Linked DNA regions of Homo sapiens. The protein of the gene in region 1 purifies or fractionates together with the protein of each later gene. This does not show direct contact. Each region holds a gene or a part of one and is shown in the gene's direction. Other genes may lie near its edges.

The links. The genes of interacting proteins can lie anywhere in the genome.
Region 2: the proteins of IQCF1 (region 1) and FAR2 purify together in Homo sapiens (affinity purification with mass spectrometry; 2 studies listed by BioGRID and IntAct, with this or other methods). This does not show direct contact.
Region 3: the proteins of IQCF1 (region 1) and EHD4 purify together in Homo sapiens (affinity purification with mass spectrometry; one large-scale study listed by BioGRID and IntAct). This does not show direct contact.
Region 4: the proteins of IQCF1 (region 1) and TBC1D4 purify together in Homo sapiens (affinity purification with mass spectrometry; one large-scale study listed by BioGRID and IntAct). This does not show direct contact.

Annotation. Positions count from the first base shown.
Region 1 is NC_000003.12:51,899,645-51,905,399, reverse strand, and holds the start of IQCF1 (IQ domain-containing protein F1), read left to right. Parts: upstream 1-2,046; 5' UTR 2,047-2,127; coding exon 2,128-2,130; intron 2,131-2,310; coding exon 2,311-2,415; intron 2,416-2,575; exon of another isoform or gene 2,576-2,607; coding exon of another isoform or gene 2,608-2,610; intron 2,611-5,755. UniProt on the Homo sapiens protein: Involved in sperm capacitation and acrosome reaction.
Region 2 is NC_000012.12:29,295,778-29,299,277, forward strand, and holds part of FAR2 (fatty acyl-CoA reductase 2), read left to right. Parts: intron 1-1,243; coding exon 1,244-1,423; intron 1,424-3,500. UniProt on the Homo sapiens protein: Catalyzes the reduction of saturated but not unsaturated C16 or C18 fatty acyl-CoA to fatty alcohols (FAls). A lower activity can be observed with shorter fatty acyl-CoA substrates.
Region 3 is NC_000015.10:41,962,558-41,966,057, reverse strand, and holds part of EHD4 (EH domain-containing protein 4), read left to right. Parts: exon of another isoform or gene 1-70; intron 71-3,500. UniProt on the Homo sapiens protein: ATP- and membrane-binding protein that probably controls membrane reorganization/tubulation upon ATP hydrolysis. Plays a role in early endosomal transport.
Region 4 is NC_000013.11:75,472,170-75,475,669, reverse strand, and holds part of TBC1D4 (TBC1 domain family member 4), read left to right. Parts: intron 1-3,500.

The DNA of each region.
Region 1 (5,755 bases):
CTGCCTGTTACCCAGTTCCAAAGTTGCTTCCACATTTTTGGGTATCTTTTCAGCAACACCCCACTCTACTGGTACCAATTTACTGTATTAGTCCATTTTCAGCTGCTGAAAAGACATACTGAAGACTGGGCAATTTACAAAAGAAAGAGGTTTAATTGGACTTACAGTTCCACATGGCTGAGGAGGCCTCACAATCATGGTGGAAGGCAAGGAGGAGCAAATCACGTCTTACATGGATGGCAGCAGGCAAAGAGAGCTTGTGCAGGCAAACTGCCTTTTTTTTTTTTTTTGAGATGGAGTCTTGCTCTGTCGCCCAGGCTGGAGTGCAGTGGCATGATCTCAGCTCACTGCAAGCTCTGCCTCCCAGGTTCATGCCATTCTGCTGCCTCAGCCTCCCCAGTAACTGGGACTACAGGTGTCAACCACCACACTTGGCTAATTTTTTGTATTTTTAGTAGAGACGGGGTTTCACCGTGTTAGCCAGGATGGTCTTGATCTCCTGACCTCATGATCCTCCCGCCTCAGCCTCCCAAAGTTCTAGGATTACAGGCATGAGCCACTGCACCCAGCCCAAACTCCCATTTTTAAAACCATCAAATCTCTTGAGATTCATTCACTATCATGAGAACAGCACAGGAAAGACCTGCCCCCATAATTCAGTCACCTCCCACCAGGTTCCTTCCACAACACATGGGAATTGCGGGAGTTAAAATTCAAGATGAGATTTGGGTGGGGACACAGAGCCAAACTATATCACACCCACAACTTCCCACATCTTTCAATGTATTCCCATATTCTCCACCCCCTCATCCCATTAACTTCACATCCCAGCCTCAAATGGCCTCCTCCTCTTCCCTACATTCCCCCTACAGATCCACATTGGCCTCTCCCATACTCACCCTATACATTTCAAGTGCACTTCTCAGTGACCCCAGGGGCTGTGCCTCTCATGGCCTTACCCTGTCCAGCTGGGTCTTCAGAGGCCGAGATCAGGCAGAAAGGGGCCATGCTTGTGCAGTGGCCACCTTCATCCATCTGATTGTGGCCTTGAGACCCCAGGGACAGAGGAAGACAGGAGAGCACTTGGACCCATTTGAGCCTCAGATGGAGTCCAGGCTGGTCCTCAGGCCCTCATGGGGTTCCTTGGGGACTGTGTTAGGCATGAGTCAGCAATTTAACTCTCCTCTCCAAAGGTAATCATTGGTAATAGTTTGGTATATATACCTTTTTTCTTCTTTATATTCATTTACAACATATAATGTGTATCATGTAATAACTTCTGGCATAAATTATTCAATTTTATGTGTATAATTATGTTCCTAGTTTTGTTTGCATAGTGGGATCAAAAGGAACTTTAGTTTTTTACTTATAAATACATCTTTATATATTTCCTCATTAGTAATATAGATCAAATTCTTATTTTTAATAGTTATGTAGTATTTTATAGTATGAATGAACTATGCATCATTAAATTAATCCCCTATTGATTATTTAAGTTGGCTATATAAGTTTTTTCTTTTCTTTTTTTTTTTTTTTTGAGATGGAGTCTTGCTCTCTTGCCCAGCCTGGAGTGCAGTGGCATGATCCTGGCTCACTGCAAACTCCACCTCCTGGGTGCAAGCGATTCTCCTGTCTCAGCCTCCTGAGTAGCTGGGATTACAGGTGACAGCCACCACACCCAGCTAATTTTTGTAATTTTAGTAGGGACAAGGTTTTGCCATGTTGGCCAGGCTGGTCTCGAACTCCTGACCTCAGTTGATCTGCCTGCCTCGGCCTCCCAAAGTGCTGGGATTACAGGCCTGAGCCACTGCGCCTGGCCAAGTTTTTTCAATTAAATGTTATTAGAAATGACTGGCTTTTTATAAACCTTACAGCAATGGGCCAGTATTTCTGGCATCTTGCCTTTGAAGTCAGGGCTTTGGCCATTTCTGGCAGAAAAGAATGGGCAGCGCTTTTGTCTTTCCCTTGGAGGGGGCTCACTTGTTAGGAGCCATCTGGTGCCTGAGTCACAGGTGCCCTTATGACATCACAGGCCTTTCTTCCTCCACCCTTCCTGCCTATGCTATGGCTGGATGAACACAGATGTGAGGGGATTTGAACCATCTACAATCAATCCATATGTGACCAATGGTAAGAGAAAGCCAGACACACCAGGCTTGTTAGGGATGTCCCCATAGATCTCTCAGGGTGAAGGGACCCCCTGACACTGAAGACTCTAAGAAGCCCTGGAAGCTGGGGATGTGTGCCATATTGAATGGAGAGGGAGGGACCGCAGCCTCACTCTTGCCTTTCCCCTAATGCTGATTGCAGGAGGAGAAGCAGCCCCAAAAGACGAAGGAACCCTCAAAAGAAGATGAGCCTCAGCAGAAGGAGATGCCAACCCATTTGTCCTTAGGAGCAGAGTCAAAGGCAGAGGTAGGAGGAGCCCTGACTTGGATGTCATTGATCCCATGTCCTAGTGCTAGTAGCTAGTGTCTTTTGCATGGTGCTGTTATAAGTGAAGTTTCTGTGCCGCAAAAGAAATAGCACTCAAATATAAAATTTTCTTTTTAATTCTCAGCAAGGCAAGGTACTTCTATAGAAGGGTGCGCCCTTACAGATGGAGCAATGGTGAGTGCACACTTGGACAAGGGAGGGGAAGGGGTTCTTATCCCTGATGCACGTGGCCCCTGCTGCTGTGTCATTCCCCTATTGGCTAGGGTTAGACCACACAGGCTAAACTAATTCTGATTGGCTAATTTAAAGAGAGTGATGGGGTGAGTGGTTTGGTGGGAAAAATGGTTACCGCGGAGCAGGAAATCGGAATGAGTCAGGGTGGAGACTGAGCAGGTAATTGGAATGAGTCAGGGTGGAGCCGGTAATCGGAATGAGTCAGGGGGGAGTAGGTAATCAGAATGAGTCAGGGCGGAGCAGGTAATTGAAAAAGGTTGCTTTACAAGGAAGTTAAGTTTAAAAGTAGAAGGCAAAGAATTGAACATATTGACATACTGATTCTTTGAAGAGAAATTTAGAACTCATACCTAACAACTTCTCCTCTTGCATTTCCTTACAGCTCTTTCTCTTTAAACTTCTTTAACATGTCTTGGCTTAGATGTTCTGCTTGATTTTCCAAAAGAAGAAGCTTCTCTGGATAAGGTGGAGAATAGTTAAGGGAGGTTTTAGTAAGTGCTGTTTTTATGAGCCTCTTTGCACCAACCCACGGACGCATGGTGTGACACAGCACCCAACAAGAATAAATACACCCATTGCGGCTGCCAGGGAAGTGAGAATTGAGGCTATAATTCTTTTCCATTTACTGAACCACTTTTCTAGCCATCCTGTAAAGGGCTCATTTAACCCTGAGTTGTTGGCTAACTCATTGGACAGGGCAGTCAGACCTTGCAATGCCTTTGTTATACTTCCATCAGGGGCAGTGTTGTTTGGGATGAAGGTACAACATTGAGTTTTAATCATGAGGCAAACTCCTCCTCTTTCTGCTATTATCATGTCTAAGCCTATCCTATTTTCCCAAGCCATCCGGCTAGTAGCCCCTAATTGCTCAGCTATTCCTTTAACACCATCTCTAGTGTAGTTAATAAATCGCTGTTGGTTGTAGCATATGTAGTTTATTCAATCTATATTTTTATTAATTGTCTCTCAACAAAATATTGACTCAAATCCTGCAGCTATTTGATTTTAGGCTTTAAATTGATCTGGTATTCCCTGCTAGACTCCAATTGCATTTAAATAGATGTGAGAGTCAAAAGACCCATAAGGGGCTTCTCTCACTTTACGATGTCTTATTTTTCCTTCCTCTGGTTGATGAAATGCCAGGGTGAAAGGGATAGCCAATTGGACTAAAACACAAGTGCCACTTCAGATATTCATCAGAGCGTCCAGTAAAGGTCCACCACAATACCACCACACATCCCCTCGGGGATGAACAAGGGCTGACTGATTGATAAGCTCTTGAAAATTCTTAAGCTCACTGCATCCGTTCAGGTCTCCAAGGAATGCTAAGTTTCCTCCCTGTCGTGAGAGACATGAAGTGAACTTAGTATTGGGAGATGGAAGCTGGATGACCCTCGGGGGCCGACCCACAGGGTGCCAGACTTCAGAATATAGCAGAGAGAAAGAGCATGGCACGACTTGTTACTCCAGGCTGTAGAATCCTGGAAAAGAGCTACCATGCAGCCCACAACCAGTCAACTGGAGGACCACCCTAGTGGAAAGGGGACATTCTGGGCCCCTGGCCTGCTGGGTGCACAAGCATAACAATTGCTTTTGTTTAATGTGCGGACGGAATATTTGATCCATTCCAACCAGACATTTGCATCTTGGTATCCTGTCTTAATTGCCAAAGTTTGTTTTAAGTCTTTCGCTTCTACGATAGCTATCTTGGTCTTGTTGTTAGATGGAGGAGGAGCAATTGTTCCATGTGAGAGGTTTTGGAAGAAGGCTTAGAGGAAGGTGCAGGCGGTGGGGGTTCAAAGAAATGCATTTCAAAGAATCCAATAGGGTCTGTCCCTGAAACCTCAGCCCCCATACCATAACACTGGCTTAAAGAAGGGAACTGGCTTAGAAAAGGGAAAGAACTTTGAGGATTCAAGGTAATAACCTGTATAGGATTGCACTGGTTTAGCTGACAGTTAGTGGGAGGCGGGGGCTGTCCCTCTAGTAAGATGAATGTATGGTTTTAGGAAATTACAAAAACCGGTTGGGGCAGTCCATCCTTGCTCTTTAGTGGTCCACAGAACCCTGGACCAACTATGGTATAAAAGCTCTACATCGCGGGGCAAGACTCCTGGTTGACACTGGGGTCTTTATCAAAATCTCCCAGGATTAAATGGTCCCAATTCACTAATACCCAGTCTGAGGAGAGTCAGGAGGGACAGAGGTACTTTTCTGAAGTAGAGAGCTGTCTTTGACTTGGCAAGTCCCCACAGGGTATAACAAGGCAAGCATCAAATGCAATAGTTTGAAGTGAAATTGACTTGGTTATGTTAATAACTAGATGGTCAGCAATAGAGCGAGGAAAGAAGAAAGAGTAATAGAATAGATGAAAGAGAGTTAAATTCTTCTTAGCTTTAGTTTGATAGGGTTTTCCCCTGGGACTATGGCCCGTGACTCTGGAAGGGGTGGCGCTTTCTTGACTCAGGTGTGGTGAGTCCATCCCCTTTCCGCTGTACAACAGCAGTCTCGGTGGTTAGCAGCACAGGGTAGAGTCCTTGCCAGGCTGGCTGCAGTTTTCCTTCTTTCCACCCTTTGATGAGAATGTGATCTTCAGGCTGGTGCTGGTTTACCGGAAATTCTAGGGGTGGTACCTGTGCTAAAAGACTTTTAGTTTTGAGGGAAAGGAAAGTGGAAGATAAACCGAGTATATGATTTCTAAGAAACTGACCTTTTGTTTTAAATGTGGGGACATCAGCAGTGGACTTTATTGTCCTTGGTGCCTTCTTACTGAGAAATTTCCTTTAGCACCTATTTTTATTAGTTTTTAGACCAAAGAAAGCCAAACACCATTTTATATTTGACAAGCTTCCTGTATGATTTTTATACCAGATAAGCTAAATTTCACCTTTATATTAAGTGTGTTATTAATGTTAAACTTAATTTTAATAAAACCTTGTAGACATATTTATCCAATTTTTGATGTCTGACCATAAGGTAAGAATTTTATAGACTGTTTTTAACCTTTTATAATTTTTGTTAAAGAGCAGGTTAATGCTTTAAGAAAAACCTGTTGTGCTTTTATTTTAATGTCCAGTTCACAGAA
Region 2 (3,500 bases), on another chromosome or scaffold:
TTGAGACGGAGTCTCGCTCTGTCGCCCAGGCCGGACTGCGGACTGCAGTGGCGCAATCTCGGCTCACTGCAAGCTCCGCTTCCCGGGTTCACGCCATTCTCCTGCCTCAGCCTCCCGAGTAGCTGGGACTACAGGCGCCCGCCACCGCGCCCGGCTAATTTTTTGTATTTTTAGTAGAGACGGGGTTTCACCTTGTTAGCCAGGATGGTCTCGATCTCCTGACCTCATGATCCACCCGCCTCGGCCTCCCAAAGTGCTGGGATTACAGGCGTGAGCCACCGCGCCCGGCCTTTTAACGTAATTTTTATCAGTGGACACCTTACTGAATTATAGTACATTTCAGTTTTTTTAAAAAGCTGCTTCTGTTTTCCATGTATGCAATTATATAATCCGACAGTAATTTTTGTGGCTGTCTTTTTAGTATCTATATCTGTTCTTTAATTTTATTTTTCTAATTAATTCCAAGGCTAGGACTTCAGAACAATGTTAAGTAGTAGTGTGATTGTAGGCATTATTCCTACCACTGACGTTACAAGCAGTGCTCCTAGCTTTTCACCAGTTCTAGTGAATTTGTTTAACTAAATTGGAAATGGAAATTAAATGTCATTTTAAACTTTTCAAAATACATATAGATTCTTATATAGTTTTTCTCATTTGAGTTAAATTAAATTAGTAAGTTTCCTGGTATTTGATAAACCATGTATTCCTGGAATGAACTATTTCATTGTTATCACATACTGTTTATATAGCTTTGCATTCTACTAGCTGCAATTTTAGATTTTGACATCAATTTTCATGTCTTGCCTGGATCTTTACAAGAGCAACTTACATTGCTCCTTTAAAAAATGTACTGTTGCTCCCCTCCAGTTTATTTACATTTTCCAACTTCTTCAGTTAGATGCTTAATTTACATGTTTGTGTTCTTTTAATGGCTGCCTATAGAAGCACCTTTATAAATTCAGAGTATTGTAATTCTTTTTCCGGTTGATTAGAACCAATTGTCCTCTAGATATATGTACAGTGTGTCAGTGAATAGGATTTATGTGCACAAAACACATCATCACTACATAAAACATTCCGAGTATCACATAACTGTGTAGCCATGACCCATCCTTCTCTTCCTGGTGTTTTGGTGCGGCCACCAAAATCTGATAGGTATGCCAGTTATTGGAGTAGGTGCAGTTATAGCAAGGCATGATACTGACTTACTTCATTGTATTTCCTTCTGCTTAATCTTCTCTAGACATGCTGTGCAACTTAACGTCACTGCCACCCGGCAGCTCTTGCTTATGGCTAGTCAGATGCCAAAGCTGGAAGCCTTTATACATATCTCTACTGCCTATTCAAATTGTAACCTGAAGCACATCGATGAAGTTATCTATCCGTGCCCTGTGGAGCCAAAAAAAATCATTGATTCCCTTGAGTAAGTTGGTCTAATAAAAGGATCAAGGGGCGGGTAGAATAAGTTCCTTTGTTCTCTTTGATTCTTTGTAGCTATTAATGAGATGATGAAGTCAAACACTTTTGAAGCAAAATGTTTTGAAACGGTGCTAGCCTTAGCTACCTTGTCCCTGCTAGTTCTGGTGGGGAATATACTGCTAAAAGAGAAGGGGGATAGAAAATTCTTAAACATTTTGTGGAATTGCGTAGGATTGCATGAGGTACTTGGGAATACTATACATAGAAGTTGTTTCTCACTTCTTAATGAACTTAGCATTGTCACTGGATAAAGCAAGTATAATGTATAGTATAAAAGTTCAGAAGAAAAATGTCTGATTCAGACTGACGTGAGTTTGGCATAGCTCCACCAGTAACTACCTGTGTGACTGAGCAAATTCCTTGCCCTCTCTGAGCCCCAAGTCCTTCATTTGTAAAATGGGCCCATTTTATAGTTGTGAGGTTGAAAAAAGTTATATAAAACACTTATTGCAGTGCTAGGGAGTGTTTAACAGCACTTAATCAAATAATTCATAAAAAAGAACTAGAGGCTGGGGGTGGTGGCTCACGCCTGTAATCCCAGCACTTTGGGAGGCTGAGGCGGGTGGATCACCTGAGTCCAAGAGTTCAAGACCAGCCTAAAATACAAAAATTAGCTGGATGTGGTGGCAGGCGCCTGTAATCCCAGGTACTTGGGAGGCTGAGGCAGGAGAATCACTTGAACCTGGGGAGAATCGCTTGAACCTGGGAGGCAGAGGTTGCAATGAGCCGAGATTGTGCCGTTGCACTCCAGCCTGGGCAACAAGAGTGAAACTCCGTCTCAAAAAAAAAAAAAAAAAAAAGAACTAATGAAGAATAAGAATTGCTCCAAGATCTGGCAGAAGGTGACAGTCTCTTGACTTATTTGGCTGAGACACACTTTCTTTACTGTCCTAGGATGCAAGAGAAATAATGTCTAGGATTTTTCTCTTCTTGCCAATGAGCAGAAACCACTTTCATCTTAAAACACAGCTCAGGTCTTAGAATAAGTTTGTTTTCTGCTTCTTTATTCTTCTGCTCCATTTTACTAAGTTTACCTTGTTTTTTTTTTTTGTAAAAAACTATATAAAAAGTATTATAGCAGAAAAATGGACTATTTCACAATGAATTTGTCACATTATAATTTTATATAATACTGTATTTATATTTAATATATACTCTTTAAAAAGTTTTAGCTAAATCAAGAGTTCATTACCTTCAGGGCAAACATTTTTATCTCCTCCAGCTCTGAGAATAGATATTTTTGTCTGTCATGTAAAAATATCCAGGACAAAGAAGAATGAAAGTCATCTAAAGGATCTGGAGGTTAAAGTTGCTAATAAATGGAGGTTTGCTAAATTGGTACAGAGAAAAATTTTAGAGTGCAGAGTTCATCAGGATAGTGGGAGAAAAAGCAGGTGTATTCTGAGGCCCAAAGTCTAGACAATAAAGTATGTTTAAAGCCTCAGAGCATTTTCAGGATGGAATTGGTTTCTGTCAGTTACCCTCTTATGGTGTTGTCTCTTGGTAAATGTGATGTTTTCATATTTGATATGTCCAGGAGAGGGGCAGACCCCTTTTGATTCCAGATTGTTTCCTGGGACTTTCTCCACTGCTGATCTCTCTAACACCTGACAGGTCATAGTGCAATTTGAGGTAGCAAAAGAGCCTGAGAGTTCATCAGAGAAAAGAAGTAAGAGGCCAGGTGTGTTGGCTTATGCCTGTAATCCCAGCACTTTGGGAGGCCGAGGTGGGTGGATCACCCGAGGTCAGGAGTTCGAGACCAGCCTGACCAACATGGTGAAACCCTGTCTCTACTAAATACAAAAAATTAGCTAGGTGTGGTGGCACATGCCTGTAATCTCAGCTACTTGGGAGGCTGAGGCAGTAGAATTGCTTGAATCCAGGAGGTGGAGGTTGCAGTGAGCTGAGATTGCACCATTGCACCCCAGCCTGGTCAACAAGAGCAAAACTTTGTCTCAAAAAAAAAAAAAAAAAAAAAAGAAAGAAAAAGAAAAGAAAAGAAGTAAGAGTTCACCCATAGT
Region 3 (3,500 bases), on another chromosome or scaffold:
CATCTCAGAAGACAAAGAGGAGGCAAGACTTGGAGCAAAAGTCCTGAAGAGCAGGGCAAGGAGCTGCAGGGTAGGCGGGGCTGGGTGGGGTGGTGGGGGTAGGCAGGAGGTGAGTAGGTGGGGCGGGGGGTGGGCAGGGGAGCGCTGGCAGCTGCAGTCCGAGCAGGGAAGCGCTGCAGGCCAGCAGCTGGGCCAGTTGTCACATCATCCACCTGACAAGCAGCAACAGAGTATTTGGAGAAATGTAGGAGGGGGAAGGCTTTTTCCATCCTGACATTATCTTCCCTAACTCACATTCAGAAGCTGACTTACAAAAGGTGTTCAATGTCCTTTTCAAAACCTCGAACCAGAAGGCCGTGGTTCCTTCTGCACGTGGCTGTGCATCAGAATCACTTGGAGGCCTTTTGACACGGATTCCAGGGCCCCACCTCAGACCTCCTGAGTCGAAATCTCTGTGGGTCAGGCTCCAAAATCTGTTTTTGTTTTTCTAAACCATCTCTCACAGTAATTCTTATGTGCCCTCCCCTAGGAAACATTTGGGAACCATTGCCAGATGAAGGTTCAGTTAATGGAGGAATGGAAGAGGGCTAGCCTCAACCCAGAAAAGGGAGGCTGACTTTGCTGAACCTTCCATCCGTTCCAAACCCCATCTGTTCACATTTCTCTCAGTGACTTAGATGAAGACATAGAATTCATGCTTACAAAACTGAGGATTGTGTAAATATAATTTAATAAATGGGGTTCTTTTTTGCTTAATATGATACGATGAGCATTTTCTTATGTCATTATATAGTCTTCAAAAATAACTTCAATGACTACATCATAATCTATAGTACAGGTTGGACATTTAGGTTGTTTCTGTTTTTATGCTGTTATACATAATGTTGCAATGAACTGAACATTTTTGGCCATAAATCTTTGTATTTCTAGTTTTTTTCTTAGAATAGCCTAAGCATAAATTAGTGCCTCAAAAAATATAGATAATAGGCTGGGCGCAGCAGCTCACACCTGTAATCCCAGCACTTTGGGAGGCCAAGGTGGACAAATCACTTGACTCCAGGAGTTCAAGATCAGCCTGGGCAACATGGTGAGCCCCATCTCTAAAAAAAAATACAAAAATTAGCCGGACATGGTGGTGCATGCCTGTAGTCCCAGTTACCTGGGAGGCTGAGGTGGGAGGATCACTTGAGCCCAGGTGGTCGAGGCTGCAGTAAGCTGAGATTGCACCACTGAACTCCAGTCTGGGCAACTGAGTGAGGCCTTGTCTCAAAATATATATATATATTTTTTTTTTTTTTCAGGCTTATATATATTCCTAAATCTATGTATCTATCTTTCTTTTTTAGGACAGTTATTCCAAATTAGACTCCCACCAGAAATATGAGGATCAGTAATTCACCAAACTGCCAGTAAAACTAATTAAAATTAATTTGATAGGAAAAAAAAGTGTTTTAGATAGGGTCTTGCTCTGTTGCCCAGGCTGGAGTACAGTGATGCCATCATAGCTCACTGCAGCCTCAAACTCCTGGGCTCAAGCAATCCTCCCACCTCAGCCTCTGGAGTAGCTGGGACTACAGGTACATTGCACCACCACACCCAGCCAATTTATTCATTTTTTGTAGAGTTGGGATCTCGCTGTGCTGTCTAGGCTGGTCTCAAACTCCTGAGCTCAAGCGATCCTCACGCCTTGGCCTCCCAAAGTCCAAAGTGCTGGGATTATAGGCGTGAGCCATGGGGCACTCAGCCAGAACAGACTTATTTTAATTTGTTTATTTCTTACTAGTGACGTTGAACTTATAAAATATAGTTGTCTTCCATATTACTTTGTGAATTGTCTGAATTGTCTGTGAACTTTGTCCAATTTTCATTTGAAGTGTTGGTCTTGTCCTTTTTTTTTTTTTTTTTTTTTTTTTGAGATGGAGTCTCACTCTGTCACCCAGGCTGGAGTGCAGTGGCGCGATCTCAGCTCACTGCAAGCTCTGCCTCCCAGGTTCACGCCATTCTCCTGCCTCAGCCTCTGGAGTAGCTGGGACTACAGGCGCCCACCACCACTCCCGGCTAATTTTTTGCATTTTTAGAAGAGACGGGGTTTCACTGTATTAGCCAGGATGGTCTCGATCTCCTGACTTCATGATCCACCTGCCTCGGCCTCCCAAAATGCTGGGATTATAGGCATGAGCCACCGAGCCTGGCCCTGGTCTTGTTCTTATAAATAAATGTAAATGTTTTTCTCAGTAACAGATATCAATCCTTTGTCACAGTTGTAAAAGTGTTTTTCCAGTTTGAAATTTGCCTTGTAATTTTTGTAATAGTTTTTCCATGCAGATATATTTAATATTTGTGATCAAATCTAACAATTTTTCCTTTTTTATAATATCTTTTATTTTTTGGTTAGAAAATCCTTGTTTATCTTAAGACTCAGGAAATGTTCACTCATATTCTTTTTTTTTTTTTTTTTGAAACAGACTCTCACTCTGTCCACCCACACTGGAGTGCAGTAGCACGTTCTCGGCTCACTGCAACCTCCACCTTCCAGTTCAAGCGGTTCTTGTGCCTCAACCTCCCAAGTAGCTGGGATTACAGGCATGGGCCACCATGCCTGGCTAATTTTTGTATTTTTTAGTAGAGACAAGGTTTTGCCATGTTAACCAGGCTGGTCTCGAACACCTGACCTCAAGTGATCTGCCTGTCTCGGCCTCCCAAAGGGCTGGGATTACAGGCGTGAGCCACCGTGCCCTGCCTCTTTTTTTTTTTTTTTTTTAGTATTTATTGATCATTCTTGGGTGTTTCTCCGAGGGGGGGATTTGGCAGGGTCATAGGACAATAGTGGAGGGAAGGTCAGCAGATAAACATGTGAACAAGGGTCTCTGGTTTTCCTAGGCAGAGGACCCTGCGGCCTTCCGCAGTGTTTGTGTCCCTGGGTACTTGAGATTAGGGAGTGGTGATGACTCTTAAGGAGTATGCTGCCTTCAGGCATCTGTTTAACAAAGCACATCTTGCACTGCCCTTAATCCATTTAACCCTGAGTGGACACAGCACATGTTTCAGAGAGCACGGGGTTGGGGGTAAAGTCATAGATTAACAGCATCCCAAGGCAGAAGAATTTTTCTTAGTACAGAACAAAATGCAGTCTCCTATGTCTACTTCTTTCTACACAGACACAGTAACAATCTGATCTCTCTTTCTTTTCCCCACATTTCCCCCTTTTCTATTCGACAAAACCGCCATCCTCATCATGGCCCGTTCTCAATGAGCTGTTGGGTACACCTCCCAGACAGGGTGGCGGCCGGGCAGAGGGGCTCCTCACTTCCCAGACAGGGTGGCTGGGCAGAGGCGCCCCCCACCTCCCAGACGGGGCGGCGGCCGGGTGGGGGCTGCCCCCCGCCTCCCTCCCGGACGGGGCGGCTGGCCGGGCGCTCTTTTTAAAATAGGATTACTTTTTAAATATTTAACTTTTTAACCCACCTGGAAGTAAAATCTGTCTCAATTATATTGTTGTG
Region 4 (3,500 bases), on another chromosome or scaffold:
ACTGATGATTTCCATGAATTTTCTAGATTATCTGGTATATTATTTACCTCATAAGTAAAAGAATCAAGTCAGAAAAATAGCAGCATGCTTAGTATACTGGCTATTAAGAAAATCATGCAAAAAGAAGTAGAGTTGGGCAATTTAGTGAATAAGATAATGGCCAGCCTAAATAATTACTGCAAACAATTTTATTTACTTAAAAAAACCTCAAGGCTTCTGTTTGTTTAAAAATATCTGGCTGGTAGTTTCAGAGTCCCCTTTCCTTTAGACTACATTGGCATGTCTGAACCAAGCCAACATGCAGTTACTTGGATGTAGCCCCTTGGAAAGTGAAGAACAGCTCAATTATGATTTAATGTAATAGTATATTCAGACTTATTTGACCAAGTAAAGGATTTTTCTTGACATATGGTCTGCATAAAATATGTATACAAATTGAATACCTCACTGGGATGTGCCAACTCTAAGGATGTCATTGGCTTGTTACTTTAAGGTTGGAATATGGTATGTAATATGGTATGTTGACATTGCACTGTCAAGTTTGTCTGAGTAGCTCCTTAATGCATTTCCTTAAAAGTGAACGTTTATTGAGCTCTTCCTGGGTGATAGCACTACTCTCACTGCTTCTCTTAGGAGATCACCCTTTAGCTTCACAGTAACTGGGTGAAGTACGTACCAGTATTTCCTTCATTTTATAGATGAGAAAACTGAGATATAGAAAGGTTAAATTATGGGCCGGGCGTGGTGGCTCATGCCTGTAATCCCAGCACTTTGGGAGGCTGAGGCAGGCGGGTCACCTGAGGTCAGGAGTTCGAGACCAGACTGGCCAACATGGTGAAACCCCATCTCTACTAAAAATACAAAAATTAGCCAGGTATGGTGGCATACGCCTGTAATCACAGCTACTTGGGAGGCTGAGGCAGGAGAATCGCTTGAACCTGGGAGATGGAGGTTGCAGTGAGCCTGGATCGTACCACTGCACTTTAGCTTGGGCGACAAAGTGAGATTAAAAAAAAAAAAAAAGGTTAAATTATTTCTCCAAGGTCACAAGACCTTGGTAGAAGCATATTTCTATCCAGGCAGATTCTAAAGCTTGTTTTCTTTTCTTTTTGAGACGGAGTCTGACTCTGTCGCCCAGGCTGGAGTGCAGTGGCGCAATCTCGGCTCACTGCAAGCTCCGCCTTCCGGGTTCACGCCATTCTCCTGCCTCAGCCTCCCGAATAGCTGGGACTACAGGCACCCGCCACCACGCCTGGCTAATTTTTTGTATTTTTGGTAGAGACGGGGTTTCACCGTGTTAGCCAGGATGGTCTCGATTTCCTGACCTCGTGATCCGCCCGCATAGGCCTCCCAAAGTGCTGGGATTACAGGCGTGAGCCACTGTGCCCGGCCAGTTTTCTTACCTGCTACACTAGAATGCAGTTATTGAAAATTAGTTTTTAGTTGTTGGTCTTATCAGCTTTTATACTATCACTTTTTCCTACTCATATTAAAAATCTCCACAGGTAAATATGCTTATTAAGTTTGTAAAATAATAATTAGTGCTGAATGCACACTTGGGTATAGTTATGCCAGTATGTACTTTCCATTTTAAGGGGAAATAAAAAAAGTTTGTTTGATTTGTTGGGCTGGTAAGGCTGAACTCTGGTGTACCTTTGATTTAGTGTCTTTAAGTATGGCGGGGGAATAAACTATGAGTCTATAGTATTTATAACCATTATAATTTTAGGTTAGAATAAAAGATCATTAGGATCTACATTTAAAAACAAGTAAACCATGAATTTGAATTTATTTTATTGAATTATAAAGTATATGAATATCTTTTAATATGTCTTTGATATCTGTGATTATATGACAGGGACAAAATATAGGATTAAAACTTTGGTTGGTTTCATTTCAGATAATCTTGCCATAGGTTTGTGCAGTCTCAGCAGAAGGAAATCAGGGTTGTTATTACTGTTTTACTGATCTCTTCCAAGTTTCACTTCTTGCAAGATGTTGGGGTTGGAAAGAGGATCTCTAAGTAATGGAATCTTTCTGGCTAAAAATAGGAGCCTACATTGGCTGCTGCTTTAGCGTTTTTATTTTGTGGATACCCTTAACCAGTTGAATAGTCTTCACTTTTAACTTTTGTGAATTTTCACACAAATTTTAAAAATTCTCTAAGTTAGGACCATGGAAACTTTGTGCTATCAATATTACATAATTTGTGAATAGTTTACTATCAGTCTCAGATTCTAAGTCAAACACAGTGCTTCTGGTCGAACAAATCTAGAAATCTTCTGTATCTCACAATTGTATCTTCTTTTGTATCTTACAATTGTATCTTCATATATATTTTTAATAATGGGTTATGTAACTTGGACAAATACATTTATGGCTGGGACCTTTTAAAATTCAGTAAAAATTGGGAGGCCGAAGCAAGCAAATCATTTGAGACCAGGAGTTTGAGACCAGCCTGGCCAACACAGTGAAACCCCATCTCTTCTAAAAAAATAGCAAAAATTAGCCAGGTGTGGTGGTGCATGCCTGTAATCCCAGCTACCCAGGAGGAGGCTGAGGCATGAGAATTGCTTGAACCTGGGAAGTGGAGGTTGCAGTGAGCCGTGATTGTGCCACTGCACTCCAACCTGGGCGACAGCTTACTCTGTCTCCAAATAAATAAATAAATATCAATGAGTAAATTGTTTTTGGTCCTTACATGGCTCCCAGCTTTTTCAACTCATCTCTTGCCTTGGTTTCAGTCATTTAATTCCCATTGGCTGGGCAGTCTGAGAGCTTTTCCTGAGTTTACCTGAATTAAACTGATAGCCTTTCTCCTTGATTCTCCAGGTAATTATTGCTCCCAGATTTCCAGTAGCAAGTTCTTTAGGAGACTAGTTTGGATCCCTCATTATTCTGTGTTGGAACTCCCTGATTCTGCTGCTCCCTTTGAAGACCACCCAATGCTTGTTGCCTAACTCTTTACAGATTGTGCACTACTTGCCTGATTGGATTTCTTTCTAGTCATGGAAGCTGGCCTTCTTTTTCCTGAGAGAGTATCTAGTTATGGTCCTCGCCCCTTCCTGTTAGCTCCTTCTAAGGCTGTTAACAGATTTTATTTGCAGACAGATTTTATTTTGTACAGATTTTATTTTGGCTGTCGTATGGAATTTTGTAAAAGCCTGTTGGCATGAACATAGTGGTGGTGGTGGGCATGACCCTTTTAAATCCATCCACAATTCTTTTTTTTATTTTTATTTTTTTTCTCTGAGACGGAGTCTTGCTTTGTCACCCAGGCTGGAATGCAGTGGCGTGATCTCGGCTCACTGCAACCTCCGCCTCCCAGGTTCAAGCAGTTCTCCTGCCTCTGCCTCCTGAGTAGCTGGGACTACAGGCGCCTGCCAGCACACCCAGCTAATTTTTGTATTTTTAGTAGATACGGAGTTTCACCATGTTGGCCAGGCTGTTCTCTCTTGACCTCATGATCCGACCACTTCAGCCTCCCAAAATGCTGGGAT